Regions from separate parts of the Homo sapiens genome. Here regions 2, 3 and 4 are each linked to region 1. Evidence: fine-mapped expression QTL. A gene starts in region 1. Each other region holds a variant in brackets. All regions are shown on one strand. Distances are between the middles of the regions. Region 1 holds the start of PICALM (phosphatidylinositol binding clathrin assembly protein). Region 2 has its middle 42 kb from the start of LINC02695. Region 3 holds the start of LINC02695 (long intergenic non-protein coding RNA 2695). Region 4 overlaps PICALM (phosphatidylinositol binding clathrin assembly protein).

Region 1 (8,109 bases):
TCAATTTCTAAGACTTGGCCGGGCACGATGGCTCACGCCTGTAATCCCAGCACTTTGGGAGGCTGAGGTGGGCGCATCACAAGGACAGGAGATCGAGACCATCCTGGCTAACACAGTGAAACCCCGTCTCTACTAAAAGTACAAAAAATTAGCCAGGCGTGGTGGCAGGCGCCTGTAGTCCCAGCTACTCAGGAGGCTGAGGCAGGAGAATGGCGTGAACCCAGGAGGTGGAGCTTGCAGTGAGCCGAGATCATGCCACTGCACTTTAGCCTGGGCAAGAGAGCAAGACTGCCTCAAAAAAAAAAAAAAAAAAATTTCCAAGACTTGTCTGTTTTCTTGTATTGGATGGGCACGATACTTGGACATGATACTTTTTGAAATTATTGTTATGAGCATTACATTTTTAAAATGTAGTGTTTTTAGCACATAGGAGGCAATAAAAAAAACCTGCTCCTTCTCCGAACACTCCCTGCCTCTCTACAACATACCTTTTAGTTGGAAGAGCCTAGGAAATACCTAGGAAATGTGTTATTCAAGTTTTTTCCTTCTGTTTTTGGTCTGCTCCTTTACAATCAAAGCAAAGAGGCCTTCAAGTTGAGAACTAACTAGTTCCCAAAGGACTGATGGGTTCACTGTAAATAGTGTTTGGCACTTAGAACCTTTATGCCTGACACACAGTTCAACACATATTTTTTGAAAGAGTAAATTAATTAACAAGGTACTGAATAAGGATGATGCTCCAACCAGATAATTATGGGATGGACATGCTTTATTTATTTTTAGAAACAGTGTCTTGCTCTGTCATCCAGGCTGGAATGCGGTGGTAGGATCATAATTCACTGCAGGCTTAAACTCCTGGGCTCAAGGGATCCTCCTGCTTCAGCCTCCCAAGTAGCTATGACTATAGGCTTATGCCTCCATGCCCAGTAGACATGCTAAATGTGTGAAAAAGTGGGCAGATTTTATCAAATGAGAGGTTTGGAGTGATGGTGTGTCCGAATGCGTGATTTCAAAGCGTTCTCATTCATTCGTTCAATCACCATCTACTGTGTATCTACCTTGCATCAACCATAATACTAGCATGGATGTATCTCTGCACCCCCATGTTAGTGCAATTAGTCAATCACAATAATAATTAGAGAACAGAAGGATATATGAGTAACAAAAGGAAATCAGTAACTGCTTATTGGTATGTGAAACAGCATGACATCCAAGTATGTCAAGTAGTGTGATACTGTCTGGAGTGCATTTAAAGGAATCAGAAGAGATGAGGCTCAACAAGTAGTAGGTAGGTAGGGGAATTTAGAGGAATGGGAAGAGACAAGGCTCAACAGGTTTAGGTGGCCATGTGAGTTGGCACATGTGGAACTTCAGGTAAGATATTTCTTAAATAGACTGAAGAAACTGACACAGAGAAAACTTAAGTATATAAGATAAAGTAGGTCAGTAATGCCTATTCTTAGTTCTAATTCCCCATCTTCTTCTAAATTGGTCCATGTATTTCATTTCACAATTACACATAAACCTCTACAATGGTCACTGATTATTTACATACTTAGAAACTTCTAAAATGAGGCCAGATCATGAAGAACCATGTATGCCAGGTTGAGAGTTCTTAATTTCATCCTTTAGGGTAGCGATGGGGGAGTTACTGGAAGATTTTAATGCAAAGAAAAGACAATCACATTTTGGTTTCAGAAGGATCTGAATTGGAGAGTCAGGGTATAAAAGACAGAGAATCAGCTAAGAAGTTACTAAAACAGTCTAGTATAACAGAGATCATAAAGGCTGGAACTAAGGCAACAGAAGTGGGGTTAGAGATGGGATGTGTTTGAGAGATAAAAGTAGATTAGGCTTGATGAGGGAAATAAGACAGAAGGAGAACTCAGAATCACAGCTTTCTGAGCGGAGCTTCTGGACATGTGGTGAGGCCATTAACGGATATAGGGAACAGTATGGATTAAAGATGTAGGATGCTGGGCAAGGGCAAGAGAAGTTCAGTATTGGCCATGGTGAGTTGGCATCTGTGGAACTTCAGGTAGAGATATTTCCTGAATAGACCAAGGAAACTGACACAGAAAACTTAAGCATATAAGACAACATAGGTCAGTAATGTCTACCCTTAGAACAATTCCCCATCTTCTTTTAAATTTCTCCATATATTTCAGTTCACAACCACACATAAACCTCTTCAATGATTACTGATTATTTACATAGTTAGAAATTCTACTATGTATACTTGGAAAAAAATAAAATATTTCTAACAGCAGCTTGTTTGTTAATAGGGTAAACATGTCAACAATTATTGTCACAAAAGTGGTCTGAAAGAACCTCTTTGGTAAAAGTAATAGTGTAATACTTTCCTGTTATGTACTTAGGAATGACTGGCATTTTCCCTAAGGATAAAATATTCAGCTGTTGATAGCTAGACCATGTTAGTGTTGACCTCAGATTGGGGTTTACCAATGCAGAGGCTCAGGCCAATCAGTAACTTATACAGTGGAACCCATAGACCAGTAGCAATGATGGCTGATAACATGTCTTGAGAATTTGGTAATTCCACTGCCCAGTGGACGTGGGGCAGCAAACTGGGCACCAAACCACAGATGGATTGCAGTACACTGAAGGAATTCATTATAGTTTTGTGAAATTGGAGGCTGGCTTGACAAAGATGAAGCCTGCTGGGATTAAAAACTTGTGTGTTCTTGGCAAGAGCATGTTGCTGCAGAATTTCACCAGCCATAGTGGGGAAAAAAGAGGGGTGAGGGGGCGTGGGGAAAATGGGAGACCACAAAATTCCTGATATGATACATAAAATGTTAAATATCTATCAGCTTTGCATCCTTTGAGAGTCACCAGATTGAAGCACAGTATTTTGGATTTGGCTGGCAGATGGTGTACACAGACTTTCTGAGAATGTTAGCATTTCATTTGAAACTAGCAAGATTACATGTGACTATCATGGTAACTTAGCACTCACATATTTTTCAACTTATCCCTAACCCTGGGTTGAATGTAGAGGCTCTAATAACATATAAAAGGCTTTGTTAATGTATGGTCTGGGTCTCATTGAATAGTATTTCAGGATGTAATACTTCTTTTAAAATGTCCACAGGGCAGTGTCAACGTCTTTCCATGGAAATCTGGCTCACCCAATAAGAGAAAAGAGGCCAAAGGTAAGAAAGACTAAACCAGGGGAGATGGCAGGCAGTGATGTCTGGACTGTTTGAATGGGACTTCTCCATTTACCGCCCCTCTCACTTCCTTCTATGGTCTGGACCTTTAATCACCACAGCAGTCAGCCATGTAGGGTCAAGCTAATCGCTGTTGACATCATCCTACTACTTCCCTTTTCAAATTCCAGTGAAGCTATGTGTTTCCTGTCCTATTCCACACCCTAGAGAATGAATACCGGCCAGCTAGTATCTAAATTTAGAATGGCAGCAACGTGTCGGGTTTTCGGAGTAGAGATAAACAAAACCAGGTGACATTTCCAAGCCTCTCAAGGAAAGGGGGGAAAAAACCTTTCTGGGGTAAGTAAATAAGGAGAGCTTCAATAGTTCCATGGTAGAGAGAGGCCTGCTGGAAGGTTCAGAAAATAGGCCGTTTGGAACCTTCTCCTTTAAGCCAGGAGGGCGGCTTTGGGAGGCGTCTTGAAATACATTCTTGACTCTGCTGGGAAAGCTCGGGGAGCCAGAGGCCTAATACCCCCCACTTCAGGGGAAGCTGTGAAGGCAGCTGCACCTCCTTTGTCAAGCTGTTGGTTTCAACCACAGACACGAGGACACACTTGAGGTGGGGGGATAAGGGGAGAAGCCTGCCGCCCCGCCCCACCCCCGCCAGCACACCGCCCTCGCCATTCCTCTCCCGCCCCGCCCCGCCCGGCGTCTGTGACCCCGCGGGCCGAGCCTCAGGCGACCTGTTGGCAGGGAGAGTCACGTGATGCGCCGGCTGTGCACTCCCCTCGGGCGGGCCTCCTGTTGCGCCCGCCTGGCGAGTTCCATCACGTAACGCGCGGGCGCCGCCCAGCTCTTCCCTCGCTGAGCGAGGGAGGGCGGGCGTCGAAGAGGAAAGGGAAGGGGAAAGGGGCGGGAGAAGGGAGGAGGGGCGGTGTCCGAGTCACGTGACCCGGGGCAGCCCGGAAAGCTCCGAGGAGGAGCCTGGCGCCGCCATTTTCCTGCAGCTGCCTGTTCCTCTTACCCTGCCCGGCTCCAGCTGACCCGGGAAGGGGTGGGCTGAACTGAGGCGGGGGCAAGGGAGTGCCCGACATCTTGTCCGACTCCGCGGGTGACACGAGCCGGTTCTCTCTGGACTGGTGGCAGCGCGCGGCCCCGAACCGCGCCCCAGGCCGGCAGGCGGGGAAGGAGCCGGTGGGGGTAGGGGGTGCGGTGGGGGGTGGGGACCCTCCGGCTCTTGGGGGTCCCAGTCCCCGCCGGCTGCTGAGCGGGTGGGGTGGTGGAGGAGCTGCAGAGATGTCCGGCCAGAGCCTGACGGACCGAATCACTGCCGCCCAGCACAGTGTCACCGGCTCTGCCGTATCCAAGACAGTATGCAAGGCCACGACCCACGAGATCATGGGGCCCAAGAAAAAGCACCTGGACTGTGAGTGAAGCCGACCGCGGCCCCCGCTCCCCGGCGCCCGCGCGACCCGCGCGCGTCCTTCTCTCTCTCTCTTGTCTTTCACCCTTCTACTGCCTCTTCCCTCCCTGCGTCTTCTCTGGCACGGCCGGTCCTGTGCCCGTTGAGCTGTGTTCTTTTGCTTCCATCACACCTGCCTTCACGGCCTCCGCTCCCCGTCTCAAAATCTGACAAGCCACTCCCCTCCCTATTCCTAGGGGACCCTCGTCTCCCTGCCCGGTGCGCTACCACACCCCATCATACCCAACCAACTTGCTTCCCCACCTGGCTTCTCACCCCCTACCCGTCTCCACTGCAGCCTTCTGCTCTTCCTTCCCACCCGTCCGGTGCCGCCTCGTCGCCCTCGTCTGAGCGTCTCCAAGCCCCATTGTTTCTTCATCAGCCTCCTTCGGGTTTCAGTAAACGCCTGGTTCCTTGCATCCAGATCCTTGTTATCCCTCCGGGCTGCCTCCCTGGAAGGGATCCCCCACTTCCTTTGCTCCACTAGCTGCTTCGCCCATCCCTTCCTGGCTTTCTGTTCCACCTTCCCTCCTGCTTTTGGGTTACCTTTTCATCGCCTCTATAGTAGCTTCAGTGTAGTTTCTTCGACTCATTTTAAATACCATACCCAGTTACCCGACTTTTATTTCAGATTACCTTCTTTGTGGGAGTGAAAGTAAAAGGATTCAATTTGGTGTAGGGAAAGCTTTCTGGAAAGTTGGGATTTTTATTTGCCTCTGGTGGAATTTAATCGTTGTGTTGTCCATACTTTTGACTGGGGTGAGTTTGTGACTGTCAGCTCTGCCCCCCAGCTTTTCACATGGGGATATGGAAAAAGGCATTTTGCTGATACTCTTATCAGTTCCTGGAACTGTTAATTCTGGCGGCTTGAATTCAGAAGCTTGAGTGTTAAGCGTAGACTGTTGGAATTCCAAATGGATTAATAAATTTACTTACAAATAACATACATCCCTTAAAAAAATTGGCAAAATGATGTTTGATGATGCTTGAGTTTGGATGTTTTAATTATGCCAGTTACCTTTTGAGGAACTAGCTTTAGCTTCTCTTACACGACATAGTATTCGTCCATTCGCTAACGTAGATACAATTAGTAGAGCTAACTCCTCGTAACTTTTTTCTAACCTGGAAGTCACCTGTAATACCCTCCTTTTTCTTTGCGCTCTTTTACCCCAGGGTACAAAGCTCATTGGATCACTCAAGCCAATGGAGCTTAGACCTGAAACTTTTCAGGGAAAAATAGGGCAATAGTCACGATAAGTAAGTTCCCTTTTTAAATGACTGGACACATTAGTCTGACTGACTTTCATCATACATGAAAGTTACTTTGTTTTACTGTTTGAAGCAAGAGTGAGCATGCCCTGAAAGATAATTCACTGTCTGGAAGCCTGTTTTGATTTCTCATTTGGACTTTGGCCGTAAAGTTTGCACTTTAAAAAAAATGTACGAAATGTAGATTCTTCCAAGTTACTGTGCTCATGAATGCTGTTAGAACAAGTTTTTGCTACACAGAAGCCTATTATTCTTTGTGATTGTTCCTCCACTGTGGAAAAAAGTTTTAAATAAAAAAGCATTAGTGCTTGATTCTTTCAGATATGCATGCAGGCTGCTTTTAAACTCTCAGTCCTTGCTTGTCTTAGAGAATGGAGAATATGTTTAAATGGTGACACTCTTATGAACAGAAAACTTTTTAAAATGCATCGTAAAGCCATATGTGATTTTTTGATTATCTGATACGTGTAGTAGACGTTTCTGCTATTTACGGCTCTTCAAATACTACTTGGTTTGCCCTACCAAATCTTACAGTTTGTCCTGACACTGTGTTAATTCTTTTGTTAGTTGCTTTTGGTTTTTTTTTGTTTTTTTTTTTTGTATGGGAGTATGAAGAAACTAGTTGTGACTGTGTGAACTATTTTCCTCTTTCCTCATTCAAAATAAGAATCGATAAGGCTTTTAAAAGTTTTTTTTGTAAAGGTTTGTGTCTTATTTCAAATGTAGCAGTGGTTCTTTTAAAGCATTGTCAAAAAGAGGAGAAAATAGGTAGGGTTAGAAGAGTGCTATTTGCATGTTGTTTCATAAATGTTATTAGCTATTTCTCTTGTTATAGCCACTACTGCAGATAGATGGTAACTGGGATTAGGTTTGGAGGATAATCTTGCATTTGTCGTTCTTTTTCTCTACCACTTCTGTGTTTACAAGCTCCCACGTTTTTGGAACTTGAATATACCTGGTAGTATTTGATTTAAAAATATATGTGTCGTTAATGTGCTTCTGTTTCTTTTCAATGAGGTTTTAAAATACAGGGATACTATTTTCCCTACATTGTTGATTAAAATGTCCTGTAATCAGTTCTCACTAATAAAATACCTTTATCTTAGGTAAAGTCTGACCAGTGAGTGGTTTACTAAACAAATACCTTCCTTGCACACACTAACATGCTTTGAGAAAATTAAAAAGTCTTCTACGGACAGTTCATGGTGTTGACATCATGAACTTTAGGCTTTAATACAGAAACCTGTCATTTCAAGTAATTTTTTGTCTTTTAGGAATTTTTCTTTATAGTGAAAGCTTAGTTTATGTGCACCTTTTAATGCCCCTAGCAACTGATGCTTATTTATATGAATCTAATGAAAATGATTTCATTTTAAAATGGCAGCATTTAACAAAAAATATGCTTAGGACTGTTGTTTTTCGTATAAGCCCTTAGAGTGTGGAGGTGGTTTCTGTCAGTTTCTCGCCAAGATCTTTCCACATTAGGAAGTGATTATTAATAATTCATGAATTATGGCTTAATTCATACTACATTATATACTTACTGAAGAAAGATTTTTTTGCTTTGCTTATACTGTAGGTGTTAGTGGATAATAGTGTTGACTAGCATCCCTAGTGTGAAAGAGTTGTCAAACTTGAAATATGTTTGTAAAAATAAACACGATTTCCGTTTAATCTTAGGCCTTTAGTAGCCATAATCAAGGTAGAGGAATAGCAGCCCTTATATTTGAAGAACTTCAGTTTTCCAGGCACTTTCTCATCATCTCATTTAATCCTGTCTCACAGCTGGAGGTGGGGGCAATTCATATACATAGAAAGTAGCTTCTAATTCCATTTAGCAGTACAGAATGCTTAAAAGAACCATAATTATTGCAGGATAGAAAAAACAAATTTTTTTTTTTTTTGAGACGGAGTCTCGCTCTGTCGCCAGGCTGGAGTGCAGTGGTGCGATCTTGGCTCACTGCAACCTCTGCCTCCCAGGTTCAAGAGATTCTGCCTCAGCCTCTTGAGTAGCTGTGACTACAGGCGCATGCCACCACACCCAGCTAATTTTTGTATTTTTAGTAGAGATGGGGTTTCACCATGTTGGCCAGGATGGTCTGGATCTCTTGACCACATGATTCGCCCGCCTCGGCCTCCCAAAGGGCTGGGATTACAGACGTGTGAGCCACTGTGCCTGGCCCACAATTTTTAATTTATAAC
Region 2 (8,109 bases), 83 kb before region 1:
AATAAACAAGTAGAAAGTAAAAAGTAAAAATCTTACATATTCCCACTCAACCCCACCTTCTTCTGTAAGTTACCGTGCTATCAGTTTCTGCCATAAGTTTCTCTACGCACTTACATATTTAGGAACCTGCAATGGCATACACGGTTAGGGGTTTGGGAAAGAGAGGGGTGGACTACCATGGCACAGGGAAGTATTTTATCCCTGGCATTAAGCCCTTTGCATGTCTGTTCTTGAACTCCTAGCCCCAAGCGATCCTCTTGCCTCTGCCTTCCAGAGTTCTGGGATTATAGGCGTGAGCCACCGCACCTGGCATGCAAAATGTTTCTCAGAATAACCCTATGAAATAGGTACTGCATATTGTCATCCCTACTTGACTGCTGAAGCAGCTAAGGTAATCTCACCCAAAGCCCCAGGACTAGTAAGTAGCCAAACAGGGATTTGAACCACAGCACTTTAACTCCAGTGTTGGCACTGTTTACTGGCTGTGCTATGGGAGCCTCCTGGTGTTCTCTCTATTTTTTACTTAATTTACAGTGTAAATGGACTCTTCTACAAACTTTTCTCCAGGTTAGATAGCTAGAAATGGAAAATTTTGATACATACTTCCAAGTTGCTCTCTAGAAACCGTGATAACAACTGATACTCCCAGAGAGTTTGAGAGTGTCATTTCCCCTGAAGTTTTGCTAATGTTGGATTTTATTGTTTATTCATTTTTTACAACCTGAAGACTAAAAATATTTCAGACTTATTTTAAGTTACATTTCCTTATGTACCCATGAGACTGAACATTGTTATATGCTTATTGACCACTTACATTTCTTCCTCTGTTTAATTAACTGTTCAATTCCTTGCTTCATTTTTTAATAGTTTAATTTGTATTTTATATTCATTGATAAGTACTCTTTATGTATTAAGGATATTAATCTTCTGTTGTATAATTGGCAAGTAATCTGTCCTTTTCACTCTTTAACTTTTGCTTATAGTATTTTTGTTGTATATTTCTGGTTTTTTAATTGAGATTTTATTCGGTTTATAGATCAATTTTTGTTTTTTTTTTAAGACAGGGTCTCACTCTGTTGCCCAGGCTAGAGTGCAGTGGTGTGATCTTGGCTTACTACAACCTCTGCCTCCCAGGTTCAAGTGATTCTCATGCCTCAGCCTTCTGAGTAGCTGGGATTACAGGCATGTGTCACCACGGCAGCCAATTCTTGTATTTTTAGTAGAGACAGGGTCTCACCATGTTGGCCAGGTTGGTCTCGAACTCCTGACCTCAAGTGATCTGCCCACCTTTACCTCCCAAAGTGCTGGGATTACAGGCATGAGTCACCGCACCCAGCCTTTTAGATCAATTTGAGGAGAAATGACACCTTCACATTATTGATCCTCCATTCAGGAAATGGTACATCTCTCCCATTATTTGTTGTTGTTTAGTAAGGTCATGAAGAATATTTATTCCTATATTTAAGTATTTTTATTTTCTAAAATTTCCCGTTCTCTTCATTTGGGAATTAATGCAAGATTTTTACTAACTTTTTAAATATTAGGCATCAAAAACTACTTAGACAACTGTAGGTTTGCTAGTTTCTCACCTTGTCACTGTTCCTTGTATATAGCATCTTCTTTTCTTAAATTTAATTTTCCTTCATGGCTCACTGCAGCCTTGACTTCCTGGGATTAAGTGATCCTCCCACCTCAGCCCCCCAAGTAACTAGGACTACAGGCACATGCTACCACATCCAGTTAATTTTTGTATTTTTGGTAGATACAGGGTTTCCCTGTGTTGCCCAGGCTGGTCTTGAACTCCTGAGCTCAAGCAATCCGCCCTCCTTGGCCTCCCAAAGTACTGGGATTACAGGTGTGAGCCACCACCCCGGCCTAGTTTCCTATTTCCATTTTGAGGTGCCTGACTTAATGTTCTACAAGCAGTAATCAGTTTAAATTTTGTGGACCAACTAGGTAAAGCAGTTAATTATAATTATGCTATCATCATGCATGAATATACATTAGAGTGGTGCAAATGCTTTATTTGAGATAAATTTTTATGTCCTCTAAATTAAAGATTGAGTAGCAAATCGAAATTAAAACTAGAGGAAAAGTCAAAGTTCACCTTCTAGCTAGAGTTGTTATAGCAACTCCAGGAAATAAATCTGCATACACAGAAGGGAGAGCAAGAGAAAATAACTGTTGATCTCTAATATGAGCTCTAGGCAATTGTTTTTCTATTTCTTCAATACTTTCATGTTGAGATGACTAGGATTATGATTCTTTCTTTCATGTATTCCATTATATTCTCTGTCATATTTTTCTCTTGAAACCTGTCTCAGGAAGAATCAACTTTCTGAAGGAGACAGAATCATCATGCCTTCACATTCCTAAAGATGGGGTAACCTGGGTTTGTTCTTTCTCTCTCTATATATATGTTTAATATGGAACACTTCATGAATTTGTGTGTCATTCTTGTGCAGGGGCCATGCTAATCTTCTCCGTATCATTCCAATTTTTAGTATATGTGCTGCCGAAGCCAGCATGGGGTTTGTTCTTTCTGATCCCATTTGGTTCATTCATTCATTCAACAAATATTCCTTGAGCATTTATGACACTGGTTTTCAACCTGGTTACATAATAAAACCACCCAGGGAACATTTCCAAAATACCATTACCAGGTTTCACCCATAGATTAATGGAGCCCAGGCCAGGCCTGTACATTTCTAAAGCTCCTCAAGCAATTAAGATGCATATGAGGGTTGAACACAGCTGCCCCATGATATATTAGGTCCTGTGCAAACAAGAGGGGATGCAAATAAAAATAAATAATTGCTAACATTTATTGAGGGTGCACACTGTATGTCAGGCACTATTCTCAGTTCCTTATGGGTTTTAACACATTTAATCCTCTCAACAACCCTACAAGGTATTACTGTTTATAGACAAGAAAACTGAGGCACAGAGAGGCTAAGTAACTTGTCCAAGGTAACACATCTAGGAAGTGGCATCTGGAGTCCATCCTCTCTTTTCTATGGCCCATCCACAGTATCATAGTCAAGTAAATAATGAAAAGACAGGAGATATGTATCAAGAAGAACACCTAGAGTGACAGGTGGAGGAAGGAGATAGGGTCAGGAAGGCTTCCTGTAGGAGGTGGCAGTTCAATTAAATAGAGGAAAAATGGAAACCAGAGAGCAAAGTGGGGTACAGAGTTCCTCAGATTCCTTCCTCCCTTGTCTTGCTACACAACCTGCCTCCCTCCCCTAGTCCTGGGAGCTCTGTCCTCCCTCTTCTCCACACTGAAAACACTGGAATGCCCTCAATCATCCTTAATATGCCTAACATTTCAACTGGGAAGTCTGAAGTCATGCACAATTACTCATGCAATTTTTCCTCCAGACAATAGGTCCTTCTGTGTGCTTCTCATTCAAATATATAAAGCTTCACTCTGTTGTTTTAAAAAAGTCTTTGTTGTAGAAACAATTCACAAATGTGTCAAACACACATTGGTTCCCCACCCCCTTCTCTGTCCCCTCACCTGATTGGGATGCTAGCTTGCCAGGGACGTGTGCCCACTTGCCGACTCTGCCCAGAATGGAAGCTAGCCCTGCATTTCACATCACTTCTAACCAAGTAGGGCTCTAAGTTTAAGTTTGAGGTTAACCTCAGGGGGCATTTAGCCACACCTGCCACCTCCTCTGCCTGGCCTCATGGGTGGGAACAGACTTCTTTTGGAGAAAGGGAAATGCTTGATGCTGCTAATTAACTGTGGGAGGAAAGGAAGCCCTCTCCAGACA[G/C]CAAAAATACCAAAGAAGAACATTATAAAAAGCAGCCTTTGTACCAGCCAGCCACATCATTCAGCCCAGCCCAGGCTGGGGCTGGAGGGAAAAATAACAACTCTAGCAGCCACTAAGTTCCTGCATCCCAAGTGGGCACCTCAGGAGGTCATGCCCTGAGTGAATGTCTGCTAGAGGAGGGGGTTCCAGGACGGTGGCGGGAGTCTGGCTGCCTTCCCAGCTGGTTTTTGGCAAACCACAGGAAGCTGCCTGAAGCTGGCATGTTTATATGGTGACTTGTGAGACTTCCTTAGAATAGCAACAGGTCTGTTTCATAACTTAAAAGCCAAAGAGTGTGTGTCCATGGAGGTATGAGGTGGAGCTGCAGGACCTTACTTTAGAGTCTGGGTAATCTCACTAGGGCAGGTCGCTTTCCCACCCTGTGCTTATCAATTTAGGGGCTGATCCTCACTCTGCAGATGGGACTATCTTAAACAGAGAAGTGTCAGCTTCCAGCCAGCCCAAATCCCTGAGGCTTGATTGCTACAGGGCTGAACTAAGTTTGAGTATCTGGGAGACTCAGGGTTCAGCAGGGAGTCTGTTGGGGAGGGCTGGGGTTGCTTCAAGAATTGGGATTTGTTCACAAGTAGGAGGGCAGTCAGGCTTTTTGGCTGGGACCTTAAGCTCAAGAGGCTGCAGAATTTGGCTGCTGACCAGTACAGGGGAATGAGGTGAAACCTGAGGGTGGCCTGAGAATGGAGGATTGAGGAGCTTAGAATTTGAAAGCTGTCAGAGCTACATTGGAGGCTCTTGGAAGGCATGTTTACAGGGTCTGCCTTATTTTATAGGGGCTGGGACTGATTCCCAAGACTCTAAATTGCCAAAAGCAGGAAGTTGGGGTACTAGGATTTCATACCAGGCAAGTTTCCCAGTCTCTCACTCCAATAACATTTTTGCATCTGGGCAGACAAATGGGAGATTCCACCACAGTAATACCACATGTACAGGATCCTTGGCAGCTGCGCGTGTGGTGGCACATCCCTTTCCCTCCCTTCCTATTGATATAGGATCTCCTTTATAGATTCTTCAAGTGTCAGAACTGAAAAGATTTTAGAAGCCATGTAGACCAATTATTTTATTTAACAGGAAAGGAAACAGAGAACCAGAGAAAAATGACTGGCACAAGGGCATATAGCTAGTTAGTAATCACTAGTATTGAAGCCAGTTTTGTTGACAACCAGTCCAGGGCTTTTTCCACAACACCACGCCCTTTATAACAAATAACATTCGTATATCAGGGGCTTCTACCCATTCCATATTGTATTTCCCATTTTACTCTCTTCCATGGAGAGTACCTTGAACTGTACCTTGCTCATGGTTAAACTACTTTCTGAAAAGTTTCCAATATTTGGTATTTTGACAAAAAAATAAATAAATAAATAAATAAAATAAAACCCTATTAGGTTAGAAAGAAAGAGGTTATCACAGCCAGAGGCTGCCCATGTGAAATGTGACCAGGGTGGAAGAGCAAAGTCCCAGAGTCTAAGGCCTTGATGCTCAAAGTTGTCCATGGACCAGTAAGCATGGGTATCACCAGGGAGTCCCACCCAGATCTGCGGAATCAAAACCTGCATTTTAACAAGAGCCTACATGATTTGACTAAGTTTGAGTAGTACCTCTTTGAGGCAAGGCTCTGCAAAAATTCCTTCTCTTCCTCTTCCTCCCCAAATGCGTAACCTTCTACCACCTCCCTCTTGCTCCTTTCTTCCACATGCTCTGTCCCCAGTTTTACTATGTTAATCTGGTTCTGCCTTTTCTTGAAATTTTAAAGCCACAAAGGGGTGGAGTGGGGGTGGGGAGGGGGGACTGGATGTATTTTAAAAGGGGACTGAAAATGGAAACTTTTGAGAAAAATAAAATATGGCCAATTGGGAAGATCTTTTGCAGCTCCAATGTCACGTTGTTAATGTTGAAATATAAACATCTACTATGTTTATATTGGCTTACTTGTAAAATCATCAACTTTGGTTATATTTAGGAATTTGATGGCTTGGAAAGCACACTGAAAAACTCTGAGAACAAAAATATTTTTCCCCTTAACTTTATGGAAAATAAGAAAATCTCTTTCAAAAAAAACAATTCCAAGAACGTCTTTTCTCTACTTTCTTTATTATCCCCATCCACCATGGCACCATGGTACATTTTTTCCTCTTAGCTTTCTTACTCTCTTTGTTCCTAGTTCAGTTTTCTCATTTCATTAACATTTTTAAAAATTGGGGTTTTCTTATTATTTATTTTTTATTTAAAAATTAGGAAATAGAGAAGTAAAAGAAAGCACAACAGAATCCCGCTGATGTAGAAACTACATAAACTTCTTATATAAAGGTATCTTAAACCTTTTTGTGCATATATTTGTTAACAAAAATGGGATAATTCAGAATATAGTAATTAATATCTACTTACTTTTAAGTGGAACTATAAAATACTAACTTCTTTATATCTGTGAACATACCTCAACAACATTATTTTTGTTAAATTCTGCCATTGAAATTGTATCATGATTGATTTGGTAATATTTCTATTGCTGGATATTTAGGTAATTCAAACTTTTCACTATTAAAAGCACTACTGGGCATGGCACAGTGGTTCATGCCTATAATCTCAACACTTTGGGAGGCTCAGGCAGGAGGACTGCTTAAGGCTAGGAGTTTGAGACCAGTCTGGGCAACACAGTGAGACCCTAATCTCTAAAAAAAAAATTAGCTGGACATGGTGGCCCACCCCTGTGGTCCTAGCTACTCAAGAGCCTGAGGTGGGAGGACCTCTTAAGCCTGAAAGGTCAAGGCTGCAGTGAGCCATACTTGCATCACTGTGCTCCAGCCTGCAACAGAGCAAAATCCCATCTCAAACAAACAAACAAACAAACAAAAAGGAAAAGGAAAAATAGAAAAGCAGTGAAAAGCAATACTGCATATTCTTAATGATTTTATTACCTTAAAAAAAACTATTTAATTAAGTCATGAACACATAAAGGCATCATTACACTTGTGAAAAAAATTTAAGATAACATGAAATGCTTTTTGACCCTCATTGCCAGCCCTGGTTCCCTTCCTCTCCCTGCTCCCTTGTTCCAGCTCTCCCACTCCCACGCCAGCTCGAGGAATCCAATCATCAACCCAGCTTTTGATGGGGATGCATGGGGTGCAGGGTACAGAATTAAGTGTTATAAGGATTTCAGTCAATGACAGTCTCCACCCTAGTGAGGGAGAACAGGCATGCATTCATGGGGAGATGCGAATAACAATTACAAGCCGTGCACCATACCACTGAGAGCAAGCTAAGGTTAGGCAAACTGAGCACAGTCCCAATTACTGCTGAGTGCACATGAAGTCCTCTTCAATTTTCAGCAGGATCACTGCTCCAGGTTTTTACTTGACCTCCTTGCCTATAATCTCTCCCTTTCAACCCATCCAGTTTACTGCTGATAAAATAATCTCAAAAGACACTCTTCTGATATGTGTGATCTTGTTCATTCCCTACTCCTCTTATTCTCCCTGCTAACCTTCCCCTCATCTTCAAGACTCAGCTCAAACTTAAATTTACTCAGTATGCAGCTACGGAGCATATATTAGGTGCTAATCACCTCTTCTAAAGCTTTCCTCACTCTAGGTTCTGTGAGCAACTCCCTCCTGGCTTTTTCTCTTGTAACAGATTCTAGTTTGTTGGGATTGTTATTTTTCTGGCCTACCTCAACCCCAAACCATGAGTTCTTAAAGTATAGGACCTCCATCTTATCAATCCTGTACCCTCAGCACCCAGTACAGTGCTGGGTACATAGTTGATGCTTAATATTTGTCTGCTCAACAAAAAGAATAAATAAATGAGCTTCCCAGAAATGTCCCACTGGTTCTTAATGTACTTTTAGGATTTGGAGGTTACTTCTTGCTTAGAGTAAGAAGCAACTGCGTTAGGTGGCAGAAGTGGAGGGAGCCTTTGAGGTGACATGTTCTAGCTCCTTAAAGGGACATGTTGGTTCTTGCCCCATTCTAAGTCTTCAGATTCTACATTTGAAACAAACAGCCTATTGCTGTCTTTGCAATATAAGAGGTACTAAGGAAGTGTTTGTTCAAAAAAATAAAGAAAAGGGGCTTTTTTGATGTTGTTGTTTTTATTTTTTGAGATGGAGTCTCACTCTGTCGCCTAGGCTGGAGTGCAATGGCACGATCTCAGCTCACTACAACTTCTGCCTCCCTGGTTCAAGTGATTCTCCTGCCTCAGCCTCCTGAATAGCTGGGATTAGAGGCGCCCGCCACCTCGCCCAGCTAATTTTTGTATTTTTAGTAGAGAT
Region 3 (8,109 bases), 120 kb before region 1:
ATACAGCTATAATTTTATTACAAAACTGTTCTTTTGGCATTAGTTAGTTACAGTGATAGCAAGATAATGTGAGTGTGCAGACTGGCTCTGATGGAACCACTGTATTCCCTGCTTACTGAACCAAACTTCAGCTACCTCATATCCATTACATACAAGTGACCTGCAGTTATTACTGCTACAAATCTTGACGCGTGTACCGCTGAGGGAGGAGCTGATGCTAAGGGATTTGATTACATGTTGATAAGACTACAAAAGTTCGTTTATGGGACTTTTTCTTCCTCTTCCCATGCAATGACTTTGCTTTAGAACAATCACATGGCTTAGAGCTAGTCTGAGTAGCAGCAGCACCCAAGGAGCGTCAGTTCTTGTTAAAAAGCAATACCTGTGTGATGCATTTTTACGCCACAGGCAAAGGGAAGGATCACCCTCATTTTAAACTCCTGCAGAGTCCCTTAATAAAATATCAAAGCATTCCATCAAGTTCTTCTGGGTGGTGTTATTGCTGTACATTTGTTGGTGAGTCATTTTCTGTGCTGTGTTTGCTTTGAAAGGATCTTCCAATTTATCTCCAATATTCCTTTCTTATCATGTCCTTTTCTTTAGCTAGGATTTCACATAACCCTAATGCATTATTAAGAATGTCTTCCTTATTGACACACTGGTTTTCTAGCATGTCTTCATAGATACCCACAAGAAAGGCAATTAGGTAGGGGGAACTATGACTTGGTTGTAAATCAAGTAATTGATTTAACAGATTAGGATATTTGGAAAGACCACGATCCTGCAAAATTCCTTTCAAATAGTTCCATGAACTATTATGTGGTACTAGTTGAATCATTTCCAGAGTGTATTGGACTTCTCTCTCCAATACAGCACAATCATTGTAGCCAGTGGTGTTGGAAATAACAAAATATCTTCGGTTCCAGACAGAGTTATTTCTCACATCCTCTTTGAGAAGTTGGTCCACATACTGCAGCTCATTATCCCAAAGTTTAAATTCCTGAATAACCCATTGTCGATGCTGCCAGGCATGATAATTCTTTGCATCCTGATTAAGAATATTATCAATAAATTCAGGCTCCTGAGATGGATCTCTTAGCCATTCCACTATTACTCGCCTATTGTGACAAACTAGATAGTTTTTGGGCTGCCCCTCAATTATTTCAGTGATGTAGTTCATTTCCTCATGTAGATCCTTCTGAAGTGACTTTAAGAGAACTCTCCGGAAATGTCACACTGTATAATTGGCTGCATTTAACTCAACAGCATCCCGGGTTAGCTTAAAACCTCGTTCGCTTCTTTCTTCATGCTGCAGGACAGCTCGGAAGTAATCAAACATCTCTAAATTTGTCACTATAAATGATCTGGACCACGGGATTGGGGCCATCATTCTGCGGCACTGGATCTGTATCAGCCCATTCTGTTCTGTCCCTGTACGGGACATAGGAGGGCGAATCCAGGCTCAGAAACCCGTCGTCCATGGGGGACGCCACGGCTTCCCCAGCCTCTGCTGCCATCTCTTCCTCGTGCTGCTCCTGGGGCAGCGGTGGGTGCGGCTGGGGCGGGGGCTGCTCCAGCTGCCGGGGCTCACCGCCTTGCGCAGCCTCCCCGACCCCCTCGGTGGCCGCCATCTCAAGATGGTCCTTATTCTTAAGGTGTTAACAAACAGAAGTGCAAACAAACCAGTTTTATTGCATATTGGTGCAATAAAAACATTATATGTCCCAATTAAAAATATGAAGAGGAGATATTAGAGGCCCAAAGGAGAGAATGGTTAATTCTATCTCAAGTGGGGAGGGGTGGTAGGAGATCAAATAAGACTGTATCCAAAAAGTGACATTTAAACAGAGTCTTGGAAAATAAGTAGATGCTCAGCGGGTGAAATATATTCTAGGTAAAGGAATGGAGGTTCTGAGGCACAAATCCATGTGATGCATTCCAGGAGCTGCAAGCAGTTCATTATGACTGAGGAGGAGGTTTGGAGCTAGATGATGACCCAGGAGACCTAATGAGAGATGAAGCTGGAAATTGATGCTGGGACCAAGTCACACAGAGGGCCTCCTGTGTTTCACAACAAGGACTCAGGAAACCCTCGTGATCTGGACAGTATCATTGAGATTGTATCACCTAAGCTGTCCAGTGCAACCATGAAGTGGAAAGCATGTGAAAAAAAGTGTAAAGTACCTGAAACCTTTATTGGATTGCCCTTTCACCTGGGTGCAGCTACATTTTAACACCCGAGTAGCCTGCACACTTGCTAGCCCTATTGGGTAAATACTATTGAGTCCTTAATAAACTACTGAGTTGTATTTGCCACCAACTCCTAGGGAAAGTTACTGCGCTTCTCTGGGCCTCAATTTCAACATCTATAAAATAAAAATTTACCTTCGTAGTATAGAATTTTACTTTTGTTTTCCCCCAAATGTTTTCAGATGCATGATTCAGGAACATTAGTCTGGTATAATTAAAGGGAAAACATCAAGAAAGGCTTTTGAGTCAGAAAGACCTGGGTATGAATCCTGGCTCTCCATGTGTTAACAGAGTTACTATGTGACAACTGCTTGAACTGTGGTTTTCTCATATACAAAATAGGGATAATGCACCTATCAGTGCCTGAAGCATAGCTATTACCCAATAAGTAGCACCGTTTTTATATTGTTTTTAAAATTTACATCTACCCTATAAGGTAGGTGAAATAGGTCTAATGTTACCCTAAAGTTGAAGATCCAGAGGCTTGCAGGTATTAGTAATTTGACAAAAGAGCAGCCAGCTAGATAAGTGGTAGAACAGGGCACAAATCCAAATTCTTATTCTTTTCATAAACGGTGCAGCTTCTTTCCTCCAAGCAGTAGGATGGGATTCAGATCTCTGTGATGCCTGTCAAGCGAATGATTTTACAAACAAATTAGATAGCCCCACACCTGCCTTAAATCTGAGCTCAGGGAACAGAAAGGCCTGGGTTATCTCATGCTTTATAATCATTTCTGGATGTGTGACTGGGATACTCTAGCCGTGTCTAGCTTTAGCATGACTATAACCTGCCAGGAGAGGGAGCTCATACTGACTCCATGCTAAGGTTACAGATACCCTGGAGACTTCAAGGGCTGCAGCACAGCGGGGGACAGGAAGGGTGGGGTTTTCCTTGTTACGGGTAA[C/T]GACTACGCAGCTTTCTGGGAATGCATATTTTGGGAAAAACATTGACATTATTTTTTTAAAAAAAAAGGTGAGATTATGACACAGAAAGAAATGACCTTTACCAGGAGGAAGTAGAAAGAAAAAAAAGAGGAAGTGACTAGAGCAAAGCAAGACAAAAGGAAATTTGGCTCAACAGGGTAGGTTTTGTTAATGCTGCACTTTTATTTAAATAGAAGGTAGACAAATGAAATATTTTTAGACTTGTACTGCAGGAACATAAGAATGGAATGAATGTTTTAAAAAATATTCTGAGAACAGAATTAGCATGTGTCCTCTTAATAATTATTTCCCTATTTTGCTTCAATAAGTATTAACTTGCCATATGTCCAAACCCTGTGCTAGGCACTAAAGATATGGAAATGAACAATTGAGCTCTTGATCTCAAAGAATGGTCAGTACAGCAGAACAGACTTACACATGAGCAGTAAATTACAGGAAAGCCTGCCACCTTCTATGCTCTGGTTGCTAGTAGAGGACAGAGGAGAAAGCTCTTATATCACCATGGGGGAAGGTCAAAGAATATTTACGATAATTACAGATAATTTTTTTGTGGGCACTTACCACCTGGCAGGCAGTCTGCCAAGTGCTTTATGTGGATTATGTCATTTGAGCCTCATAATAATGCAGGTGTTATTCTGTGATTTTCATTCTTTAGATGTGAAAATAGAGAAGAAACTTTTCCAAGATCATAAGTGGTGGAGAGAAGTTTTCCAAGGAGAAAACCTGGGCTAAGTATTAAAAACAACAACAATAAAATCAGACAGAACTGAAAGAGAAGAAGAATGGTGAAAAGGGGAAATGGGGGAGAATATTCTGTGCAGAAATAACAGTATGAAAGAGGCTGGTCAGCAAGTGACAGCAGATTGCAGTGGAAAAATCACAAGTTGTTCAATGTTACTGGAGTGTTCAATGCATGTGGGGGGATAGAAAGAATTGAAATTAGAATGATAGGCATGGGTCAGATCACAATGGGCTAGCCATGTCCTGGAAAAGAGTTTGAACTTTATTCTGAAACCACTGAAGCATGAAATAAGGACAACAAAATAATAAGAATAAGAATATTGTTATTGTGTAGGCTGAATAATGGTCCCCCAAAGATGGTTTCACATCCTGATATGGTTTGGGTGTTTGGTGCCTCCCAAAAACAGAGCCCCATACTGAGTTTAATGCCCTGCTGTTGCTCTCTTGAAATTTTTAATAATTACTTTACAAGGGGCCATCCTGCATTTTCATTTTGCACTGGGCCTCACAAATTATGTAGCCAGTATTGCCTAATTCTAACATTAATCCTGAAAAACAAAAAAGTTATACTCACTTTATAAACCAAGAGACTGCAAATCTCAGAGAAGGAGTATAATCCATTAATAAATGCCTTGAATCAGGTAAATTCTGCTACTTGCCAGTCAGGGCCCCTAGGACAAGCTTACTAATTCCTTCCAAGCCTCACTTTCTTCTTTTGCACAGTAATTACAATATCTGCCCTGCAGAGTGGTCATGAATATAACATATGTAAAGTACTGACACAGTGCTAGCAGATCAGAGGGACTCAGATGGTAGTTGCTGTTGCTCAAAGTCCAAGACTTAGTAAGAGATGAAGAAGGATTTCACGCCTATAGTTTTCTTTTTTTTTTTCTCTCAGACTTGTATTTTGGAAGAGAATGCACAATGTGGGTTGGTGAAATGTAAGACCAGAGGCAAGAAGACCAGTTCAGAAACTGTGGCAATGTCATAGACAATTTCTGGAAAGACTGTCCATCTCATGCCGTCTCTTTTTTCTTTGATATTTGCCTCTAATACATAGAAGTCATCCTCCAGAGCTGTGTCCCCATCACATGACTCAAACTTCCTAAACTTCTTAATCTTTGTTGGTCCCCAGATTTCCCTAGAAATTTGGAACTTTGATCCAAGAGATGCAGAGGCTAAGCATTGTTGGAACCAAGTCTATTCGTAGGAGACTCTCCAGAGAAGGCCCAGAGCAACCTGCTTGCTGCTGAGGTCCCCGGAGCCACTCTGAAGCCTGCCTCTCCACAATGATTTCTCAGTTTCTCCTTTCATTCCACACAAGTATACATCCAATAAATCTTCTTCCATTCCCTTCTGAAGCAACGAGTTGCAACCAATAGAACCCTAATACATGTAACAATGCTAGAGTTATTGGGAGAAATGGTTGAAACATTAATCAAATTCGTGTAATAGGTTTAGGGAGAAGAAGGTGCACATTTAGGAATATGTAGGTGCAGAAGAAAGAGTTTGGAGTGCCTTCCACATTTCTGGCTTCAGTGACTGGGTTGATGTTGCTACAGTCATACAGGTAGGGCATATGGGGAAAAAAAGGAGTGATCGGAGGGGAAGATACTGGACTCAAGGTGCCTAGAGGACATTCAAATGGAGATATACAGTTGGAAACTAGATATGTGCTTCTGGAATTCAAGAGCGTAGTCTAGGCTGGCAATACATATTTGGGAATTTTCAGCATTTAAATTGTCATTACCGCCATGGGGGTGAATGAGATTGCCCAGAGTATTAAGTTAAAAAAGAAGGATCCAATAATGAAATCCTATATTTAATACCGATGTATAAGAAGCAGGTAGAAGGAAAGAAATGCTGAAAGGAGGCTTAGAAGGAATGGCCAGGGAGGGAGAAGCAGAACCAGGAGAAGTGCCAAATGAAAGGAGAACGTGGAAAAGGATATGATGTCTAAATCAGTTCAGCATCATTACCAGTGTCCTCTTCATCTACAGCTGAGGCTGCAGTCACGCTATCAAACATACCTCCTGAGCCTGCTCCCAGACCCAGGGAATTTTTTTTTTTTTAAAGACAGAGTCTCACTCTGTCGCCCAGGCTGGAGTGCAGTGGTGCGATCTTAGCTCACTGCAGCCTTCGCCTCCTGGGTTCAAGCTATTCTTGTGCCTCAGCCTCCTAAGTAGCTGAGATTATAGGTGCCTGACACCACGCCCAGGCTAATTTTTGTATTTTTAGTAGAGATGAGGTTTCACCATCTCGAACCTGACCTGAGATCATCCTGACCTCGGGTGATCTCCCCTCCTTGGCTTCCCAAAGTATTGGGACTACAGGCGTGAGCCACTACGCCCTGCCCAAACCCAGGGAATTTCTTTAAGCTCCATCTTCTGCCTTTTGCTATGGCCCTAGATTCTCCTGCACTGCTTGGCTTTTTTGGATGGATGGCTTAGAGTAACAGCTGATGGCTGTTAAAATATTGTGAGTTCACCAACAATGAAAGAAATACAAATCGAAACAGCCTAAGATTGTTAAGATTCAGGCCAGGTGTGGTGGCTCACACATGTAATCCCAGCACTTTGGGAGGCCGAGGCAGGCAGATCACCTGAGACCAGGAGTTTGAGACCAACCTGGCCAACATGCTGAAACCTCATTTCTACTAAAAAATACAAAAATTAGCTGGATGTGGTTGTGCATGCCTGTAATTCCCAGCTACTGGGGAGGTTGAGGCAGGATAATCACTTGAACCCAGGAGGAAGTGGTTGCAGTGAGCCAAGATCGTGCCACTGCACTTGAGCCTGGGCAACAGAGTGAGATTCTGTCTCAAAATAAAAATAAAAAATAAGATTCTATCATGTACCTATACCTGATATGGTTTGGCTCAGTCACCACCCAAATCTCATCTTGAATTGTAATAATCCCCATGTGTCAAGGGCCGGGCCAGATGGAGATAACTGAATCATGGGGATGGTTTCCCCCATACTGTTCTCATGGGAGAGAGTAAGTTTCATGAGATCTGATGGTTTTATAAATGGGCGTTCCCCTACACAAACTCTCTTACCTGCTACCATGTAAGACATGACTTTGCTTCTCCTTTGCCTTCTGCCATGATTATGAGGCCTCCCCAGCCATGTGGAACTGTGAGTCAATTAAACCTCTTTTCTTTATAAATTATCCAGTCTCAAGTATGTCTTTATTAGCAGTGTGAGAACAGACTAATACAGTAACTATATCATTAATATACACAAATAAAGCAACAAAGCCTTATGTTGGCAGAGGCTGTGGAGAGGAAGGCAAGTGCAAACTTTGCTGATAGCATTTTAGGTACAGTCAACTCTTCTGCAGACTAACCAGGGAAGCAGTACATGAGCTGTATGTGCCCTTTGTTCCACTTTGGAACATACCTCAAGGACATAAGCTAAAGGAAAAATGTAGTAAGCAGTGAAGATTCTAGTACCACTATTTATAATGGCACAAAATGAAAACAATCCAAGTCCTGAGCTTTAAAGTAATTTTTAAATAATATCCAACTAACTGATTTGGAACGCTGTGTAACCATTAAAAATGATAACCAAGTGAACATGGAAACATATCTATGAAATAATGTTGAGTGAAAAAAGCAAAGCACACTAAGCGTCAGTGAGGGCATAGGAAAGTGGGAACCCTCAATATATTGTTGGTGGGAATATAAAATGGTACAGCCACTTTCGAAAACACAACCTGGAAGTTCCTCAAAAAGTTAAAAATAGAGTTATCGTTTGACAATGTCACTCCTAAGTATATGCCCAAGAGAAATGAAAACATATGTCCACACAAAAACTTGTACACAAATATTCATAACAGCACTACTCATAATAGTCAAAAGGTAGAAACAACTCAGATGTCCATTGGCTGATAAAATGATAAGCAAAAGGTGCTATACTTACACAATGGAGTATTATTTGGCCATAAAAAGGATAAAGTAGGTACATGCTTCAGCATGGATGAATCTTGAGAACATTATGCTAAGTGAAAGAAGGCAGTCACAAAAGACCACATGTTATATAAAACCATTTCTATGAGGGAGGATTCAGATGTGATAGTAAAAGGTACAGGGTTTCTTTTTGAGATGCTAAAAATGTCCTCAAATTGATGTGGTCATGGTTATACAACTCTGTGAATATACCAAAAACCACT
Region 4 (8,109 bases), 91 kb after region 1:
CTAACAAGGTGAAACCCCGTCTCTACTAAAAATACAAAAAATTAGCTGGGCGCGGTGGCGGGCGCCTGTAGTCCCAGCTACTCGGGAGGCTGAGGCAGGAGAATGGCGTGAACCCAGGAAGTGGAGCTTGCAGTGAGCCGAGATTGCGCCACTGCAGTCCGCAGTCCGACCTGGGCGACAGAGCAAGACTCCGTCTCAAAAAAAAAAAAAAAGTCTATAAAATCTTATTTCTTAACGTAAAAGGAACTTTTTTCAAAGTTCCAGAGAGCTATTTTTTAACCTATATTGCTTTAGATATAAGTGAGTCTTCAGAAAATTTTGCTGGGCTAGCAGGAGAATTACATTTGTTTTTTTTCTCTTTTATAATACTTCTCTCTTATCCCCTTTAACCCTAATGTAATTTTGTCATGAGATAAGAGATGATTTCTGTCAAAGCAAATACAGCCTTCTCAGTCAATTCAGTATGAAGTGGTGACTTTCTTCATTTTCCATTTAAAGACATTTACTAATGTCTATTTTTTGGATAACTTTTCCAGTGAATAAACAAGGAGAAAAGGCAAAGACCTCCTTTAGAAAACCATAGCGTCATAAAGTTCCTTACAAATTCTATTTCGTCTGTTTGTAACTTTAAGGCTTTGATGAACTAGGTGGACTTCTCAAACCAACAGTGGCCTCTCAGAACCAGAACCTTCCTGTTGCCAAACTCCCACCTAGCAAGTTAGTATCTGATGACTTGGATTCATCTTTAGCCAACCTTGTGGGCAGTAAGTAGTCTTTGGATACGTTAATCTTCTTTTATGTTGTTTTATTAAACTGCGTCTCGTGTTATAAAATGCTTTTTTGTTTTTCTCCTTTCCTAGATCTTGGCATCGGAAATGGAACCACTAAGAAGTGAGTGTTTAATATACACATTGTTTTCTCCGTGTGTTATTTAGTGTTTTCTCCATGTGTTATTTGGAGGGTTGATTTGGCTTTCCTCTCAAAAATATGTGTAGAGATATCAAGTCTGCATCTTTTTTTTTTTTTTTTGACACGGAGTCTCGCTCTGTTGCTCAGGCTGGAGTACAGTGGCGCAATCTCGGCCCACTGCAAGCTCCGCCTCCCGGATTCACGCCGTTCTTCTGCCTCAGCCTCTCAAGTAGCTGGACTACAGGCACCCACCACCATGCCTGGCTAATTTTTTTGTATTTTTAGTAGAGACGGGGTTTCGCCGTGTTAGCCAGGTTGGTCTCAATCTCCTGACCTCAAGTGATTTGTCCACCTTGGCCTCCCAAAGTGCTGGGATTACAGGCATGAGCCACCACGCCCAGCCTCAAGTCTCTATCTTACTCTGTTCTATATAAGTATATAGCTAAGGAAACTTTATAATTAGAGACATTTAATATTCTCACTTATGTTTATTTAAAGTGATGTAAATTGGAGTCAACCAGGTGAAAAGAAGTTAACTGGGGGATCTAACTGGCAACCAAAGGTTGCACCAACAACCGCTTGGAATGCTGCAACAATGGTGAGTTGAAAAAGCTCCTGATAGACTAACAGTTGAATAATTTAGTTAAATATGTAACATGAAAATGTTTTTAAAGTGATAGACATAAATAGAAGGATTGTTACTGAGTTTAGAAGTATAAGTAATTGTATTTCTTTCAAAGGAAGCTGGTTGCCTATATTTACCAGATACATTTTAGTGGCTAACAAGTATTTAAGGGTTACTTTGTGCCAGACATATTCCAGTAAATAATAATGTTTTATTTTTTATAATCCTCCTATTAATGTGTTAGTCACTATTATTATCCCTATTTTACAGATGAGGAAGTGGAGGCTCAGAGTTATTAAGCAATGTGCTCAGGATTACAGAGATCTTAAATGATGAGTTGAATTTTTATAACCTAGGCAGCCTAACTATAGAACATATGTCCTTAATCACTACTCTATATTACTGACCTCAAATTTTTTATTTATTTTTCTAAAATACAAAATCTTGTGATTTCATTATTGGTAAAGAAACTATACTTGCTTCGGTTTTGTCATATAATTTATATATATGACAATGTGTTTGGCAATTATATATATGTCATATAACTTACACAGTTGATACTCATTATTTGTGGCAGTTAAGTACTTAAGTCACCCCAAACACTGAATTAGTGAACACTGAACCCTTGCTGGGGGAAATATATGCATATATGTATATGTCACATAGACGGTCCTTTTAGAAAACCTCATTCTAGTATATTCTATTTATTTTATGAAAGAGGAAATAAAGTTCAGAAGTGTTAAGTGACTTGCTTAAGGCTGTCGCACTAACTGGTGCCAGAGTTGGAATTTTAGCCCTGTCCAGCTGGCCCCAGAGTCAGAGTTTCTTGCAGTATGATGGACTCCCCATCCTCCTTCTCTATCCTCTGGTCTGGTATGAGAGCTGAACCAAGGCAGAGTGTCCTTTGTTCCATCTCAGCTGGAGGTGAACTGTATTGGATGAGTCAAATTTTTGCCCCTCTGCAAATGAGCATGAATGGCCTTGAAAGCACCAGGAGTGTTGATTTTTGGTGTCACAAAGTTTATCATGTAGGTGAATTTGCAAATATGGAATCCATGAATAATGAGGATTAACTGTATTTTCTAATTAAATAATTAGCATCTAGTAATGAAGAGGTTTTAGTATGTTTTAATTACTGTAAGGTATGGTAGACCCAGAATAGCTCTGTGGCTATTCTCCTGTCCTTGGCCAGTTTCTATCTTACCAACCAACAAATTTTCGTCAGTCAAAGAAAACTCCTTGTGGAAAAGTTTGAAGCATTCTTTCTCCAGACAGTAGGCTAGTAGCTGTGTTTTGATTACACGGGCTACACGTTACTGACAGCTGTCCTGTTACTGTTAGAGGCTGCGGTTGTCCTTATAGCCACTTCCAGAGCACTGCCCTGTTTTCCGTGGGTTAATGATATGTTAAAATTAGTAGGACTGAGCTAAAAATAGTATGTTTGTTAAAATTTGTGCATTTTATTATATAGCTTAAGACTTCATAAATGGAAAGTAATATTGAGATTTAGCTACCTTTTTAAGGCAGTGTTTTTTTGTTGTTGTTTTTGTTTTCTTTCAGACAGTGTTCATTGCCATCACTAATTTTATTATTTTGTATTTTTTTTTTTTTTGTGACGGAGTCTTGCTCTTTTGCCCAGGCTACATTGCAGTGGCGCGACCTCAGCTCACTGCAACCTCTGCCTCCCAGGTTCAAGTGATTCTCCTGCCTTAGCCTCCCGAGTAGCTGGGATTACAGGTGCCCACCACCAGGTCCAGCTAATTTTTAAATTTTTAGTAGAGACTGGGTTTTATTATGTTGGCCAGGCTGGTCTTGAACTGCTGACCTCAAGTGATCCACCCGCCTCAGCCTCCCAGAGTGCTGGGATTACAGGCCTGAGCTACCACGCCCAGCCTATCATCACTGATTTTAAAACTTTGCATTTAAGTAGTTTAGATTTTTATACACACAAATACACAATCTTAAACATGTAAATGTTGCTGTCTTGAGGGAATTGGAGCATGTATCACCCCACTTCTAAAGATTTTTTTTTTCCCTAAGTGCAAAGCAGTTGAAAAGCAGATTTAAGTTGAAATCCATCTCTTTGACTCTGAATCCAGTCTTCTTCCCACTATAACACACCTCACTGACTA[G/C]GGTATGGTAGGAGTTTAGAGTAGTGGATTTTATGGACTCGTGTGAATTATGACATTGATGATGTATGAGGAATGATATAAATACCAGTGCTGCTATTAAAATATAATGAATATTTTCTTATATTAAGTTAGTATTAATCTATATGAAGTATTAGGAGTTCATAGATAGCACTTAAGACTGACTACTAAAATGTAGTAGGTATTTAGTCATGTAGAATTTGTATTTAAGTTGATAAGGTAACAGTCTTTATCTTGCTGTGTTATATATGGTAATGTGTATCATCTCCTAAGGATTTTGCTTAAATATTTATATGTATTTTATGGAGTTTTCTTTTTAATGGCTAATGTTTGGGGCTGATAATGTGATTCACTACTTAAGATAAACTGCTGCTTTTGACATTTCTTTACATTTCTAACCTTTTTATTAATCCTTAAACACTGTCAAGGTTTTTCAGTGTTTTTTAAATTTAACACAAATTCATTGGAATTTTATTAAAATATATATTATACTACAAATTCTTTTAATTAGTGCTTGCTTTTTTTCTGTGGTAGACATCTGATGCAACCCTGTTTATGCAATGCCCAAAATTTTGCACTGTTGACACTGTTGATAGAATTGATGTTTTAATGGTACTTGTAATCAATAAACTATTTTTTATATAAAGAGATGAGGCCAAAGACTACAATTCCCTTGTCAACCTTGATAGTGTTTTAGTATAGATGTTCTTTCATTAGATACTGGAAATACAAGGGATTTTAGGTAGTTAGTGAATGTACATGTGAACTAAAATGCTCTCTGTGTATTTTCTGTTGTGTAAGTACTTGTTCTAATCCAGTGTTATTGCATTATGTAATTGTTCTCCCTGGGAAAAACAGAATGGCATGCATTTTCCACAATACGTAAGTGACCAAAAACGAGCCTTTTTGCAATAAATTGGCATGCTATTAACCACTGCTGTAGCAGAATCTCATAACCTTTCAGCTATTACTTGTTTTCACATTCAGATTTTCAATGTGCCAGAAATTCTTCCTAGCATCTACTGATTTCATGGGTGTGTTGCAGAATTGATTCTGATGGTGGCATGGGAAATACCGATTTTTTTTCTTGCTTAATATTCCGCCATTTGCTGCCAGATGGCTGGGTGTCTGTGTGTGTATCTGTGCTGCCACTATGCACTTGATGACTTCTGAATGAAGGGAAATGTTGATTGTGGTAATGTTTAAAATAACAACTGCATGAAATCTTACAGGCTTCTGCTCTTCTTGGCAGTTTGTCTACTGCTCTTGCAGATCTTGGTTTTAAGTAGGGAGAGACCAATAAGTCCTACACGCTCACCCGAATACTAAACTTATAACTATTCACTTTAGTGTTATTTTTTTAAAGTTATATTTCATTTAATTTCTCCATGCATATGTTCAAATTGCCATATAATTTCAGTTATTTTATGTTTTAGCAGTGTTATTGGTCTTTCACCTTTATTCAATTTCAGTTTTCATTATGAGAAACACACACAGGAAATGTTGTTAAGACAGCAACTATATCTAAAATGATTCTGTTCTCAAATTGTATGTTTACAGATAATCAAAGTAGTAGGAAGAGGGGAACTTAAACATCATAGTGATAGATGGTTCTTTTAAACATGAAAGCATAAACTGACCTAATTGATTGTTCCTCTTAAATAATTTTTGGAATAAATTAGAAAGCTAACGTACATACTCTATATAAGAACTATGGCTCATAGAAATAGTCATACTCAATAGTAGTTTGAAACCTTTGGAGTTTTTTGAAAAGAGTGAGTAAGATCCTTAGAAACTAACTTTTTGGAAGATCAGGTTATTGATTGATTTGAGATCTTTACATTTTTTTCTTTGAATGCTAAAGCAATCAGGTACCTAAGTAAGAAAACATTCAATAATACTTTTTCTGGGTAGACATTTTTTAATGATAGTGATAGGCTTTAAATTTTAGAACTATTTAGAACTATTTAAGATACTTTTTTAAATCTAAAGATTTTTAAAGCTGTAAAAAGCATGATGAAATCTTAGATCACTGCTGTATCTAAGTTTAAGTGGTATAGTTATCCTTCTAATAAGTCTGCTTTTCTGCTAATTTCAAAACACTTTTTTTCACTGACCATTAATCGACAGTTCTTAATGATCACAAGTGTCACTTACTCACAGCTGTCTTAGCAATTCTTTTTAGTGGAACTACAGCTACTAATTCCTTGAACTCAGTTGACACACATGAGTTATACTTTCTTGTTCATTTTTCCTTTCACTATGTTAGGCACCCCCTGTAATGGCCTATCCTGCTACTACACCAACAGGCATGATAGGATATGGAATTGTAAGTATTTTCCTAGGTACAGCTTTTGGAAAAAATATTGATTCATATATAACATGTTTTTATTACAATTTAACCTAAAAAAGAATTTAGTGCTCCTCATACTCCTAGCCCTAGTGCCTAATGCAGTAGAACCATAGCATTGGTTTCATAAGTATGTCTAGAATAATCATTATACAAGAGATCTTATGCATTAATGTTCATAGTATTACTTGGTTTATTTTTCTCCTCGTAACTTTGCTGGGCCTTTTATATTTCAAACATTAATGTTAATTCTAAGCCTTTGTTGCTGTGACCATATATTAAATACCAGTGAGGTCTTATAACCTGATATTGTAGGGCATGGGAGGGATTAACACTTGAATTGTATAGAGATAAATTTAGTCTGATAAAGGCTAGAGAAATTTTCCTGTGACAATGATTATTACAGTACAAAAACAGTCTTTTAACCTTTCAAAATGCCACAATGTGCATTTTAGATTGCCCTTAGTTTCCCAACTCTCAGTATATAGAGACTCAATTAGAAAAGAAATGGTGCTAGTAGCTTCAACCCACTGGTATGTATTTGAGGAACTGTTCCTGGTAGAAGGCAGTACCGTGTCCCTTGGTATTGCTACTGTGCCTGCTATGTTACTTCTTTATGTATATGATATGGAAGTAACTCCTTTTATACATGTGGAGAAGTTTCACAGCTTTTTTTCATAGTCATTGCATTAAAATGTCTGCTGAGGCTGGGTGTGGTGGCTTACGCCTGTAATCCCAGCACTTTGGGAGGCCAAGGTGGGTGGATCACCTGAGGTTGGGAGTTCAAGACCAGCCTGACCAATATGGTGAAACTCCGTCTCTACTAAAAATACAAAAATTAGCTGGGTATGGTGGCGCACACCTGTAATTCCAGCTACTTGGGAGGCTGAGGCAGGAGAATGGCTTGAACCCAGGAGGCAGAGGTCACAGTGAGTTGAGATCATGCCACTGCACTCCAGTCTGGGCAACGGAGCAAGACTCCATCTCAAAAAAAAAAAAAAAAAAAAAAGTCTGCTGAGAAACTCAGGCCATAAACTTAAAATGAAGCTCTAAATGCAAATAGTAGTCTGCTTGAAACAATAAATAGAACTTCTTGAAAGGAAAGATTTTAGAGCATTGCATTTTAACCAAAACAGTATTCTGTTTGTGCATTATTTTTACACTAGGTATTGTCACTTACTAGGTTAATTTTATACCCTGTAGTGGTAATTTTTAAAGAAACATATTTGGTTGAGATTGTATTTTCAGTTACTCAAGAAAGAGTTAACCTCTGGTTTGTAGTTTAAGCTCTTTCTTGATTCTTATATGAAATAAAATGGAAGAACTAGAGCAGGCTTATTCAGAGAATCAACTGTCTTCACTTGTGATCACTTGCATAATGGCAAAAGTACTTGATTTGTTATACAAATTTACTTTGAAATTTCTTAGCAGCGAAGACAGAGTCTTAAGTTTTCTTGATGTCTAAACCTGATAAATTTGGAAACTCTTAGTCTTAATCATTTTATCTGTTGTAATACAATAAAGTTTACATTTTGCAACTCATTGAATAGAAAAAGTTAGGCTTTGTTACTACATTTTAAAAATGAGCATGTTAAAGACTTTACTTACCAAAAGAAAAAAAAATACTCTCGAAAGTTTGTAGCTGTTAGTCTTACTTATATTCAGAGGAAGTTACCCTTTGAGTCAAGCAAAGGTACTAGGACCTGTCATCCCTGTTGTCATTGTTATTTACTTAGTCACAATAAGGAAGATAGGAGTCAGTATCTTTTGATATTTTTCTCTTTTTTAGCCTCCACAAATGGGAAGTGTTCCTGTAATGACGCAACCAACCTTAATATACAGCCAGCCTGTCATGAGACCTCCAAACCCCTTTGGCCCTGTATCAGGAGCACAGGTATTACACACTACATGTAACTGTGGTAATGTGTTTGATTTGGAAGGAATATGATACTATAAAACCCTTTTGTACAACTTGAGAAACAAGTTACTAGCACTTTCTACCTTCATTATGGATATTGCTTGCTTCATATCTTTCTTATATAAGAGCTTTAGGAATATTGATTATTTGGAGGGAA

The links.
Region 2: its variant is fine-mapped to the expression of PICALM in whole blood (TOPMed, PIP above 0.99).
Region 3: its variant is fine-mapped to the expression of PICALM in whole blood (TOPMed, PIP 0.99).
Region 4: its variant is fine-mapped to the expression of PICALM in whole blood (TOPMed, PIP above 0.99). The same link has a PIP of 0.9 or more in gastroesophageal junction, sigmoid colon, sun-exposed skin, tibial artery and tibial nerve.

Annotation. Positions count from the first base shown.
Region 1 is chr11:86,065,144-86,073,252 of GRCh38, reverse strand. PICALM (phosphatidylinositol binding clathrin assembly protein) reads left to right here and starts at 4,169. Exons shown (of 20, transcript NM_007166.4): 1 at 4,169-4,602. The coding sequence starts at 4,473. LOC124902731 (a long non-coding RNA gene) reads right to left here and starts at 3,329. Exons shown (of 2, transcript XR_007062823.1): 1 at 1,556-3,329; 2 at 752-935. RefSeq lists silencers at 3,655-3,924, 4,075-4,244, 4,385-4,434, 4,505-4,554 and enhancers at 3,180-4,379, 4,119-4,820, 4,821-5,523.
Region 2 is chr11:86,147,646-86,155,754 of GRCh38, reverse strand. It overlaps the pseudogene RNU6-560P. Among named protein-coding and RNA genes, the nearest start is that of LINC02695, 42 kb to the left of the region's middle. RefSeq lists an enhancer at 3,889-4,389 and cis regulatory regions at 3,980-4,490, 7,186-7,236. The variant G/C (reference allele first, on the strand shown) is at 3,783.
Region 3 is chr11:86,188,656-86,196,764 of GRCh38, reverse strand. It overlaps LINC02695 (long intergenic non-protein coding RNA 2695), which reads left to right and starts at 3,267. Exons shown (of 2, transcript XR_001748524.2): 1 at 3,267-3,332; 2 at 3,851-5,297. It also overlaps the pseudogene FNTAP1. The variant C/T (reference allele first, on the strand shown) is at 3,156.
Region 4 is chr11:85,974,527-85,982,635 of GRCh38, reverse strand. PICALM (phosphatidylinositol binding clathrin assembly protein) reads left to right here. Exons shown (of 20, transcript NM_007166.4): 15 at 633-764; 16 at 861-891; 17 at 1,408-1,507; 18 at 5,954-6,013; 19 at 7,824-7,928. Among named protein-coding and RNA genes, the nearest start is that of PICALM, 91 kb to the left of the region's middle. The variant G/C (reference allele first, on the strand shown) is at 3,667.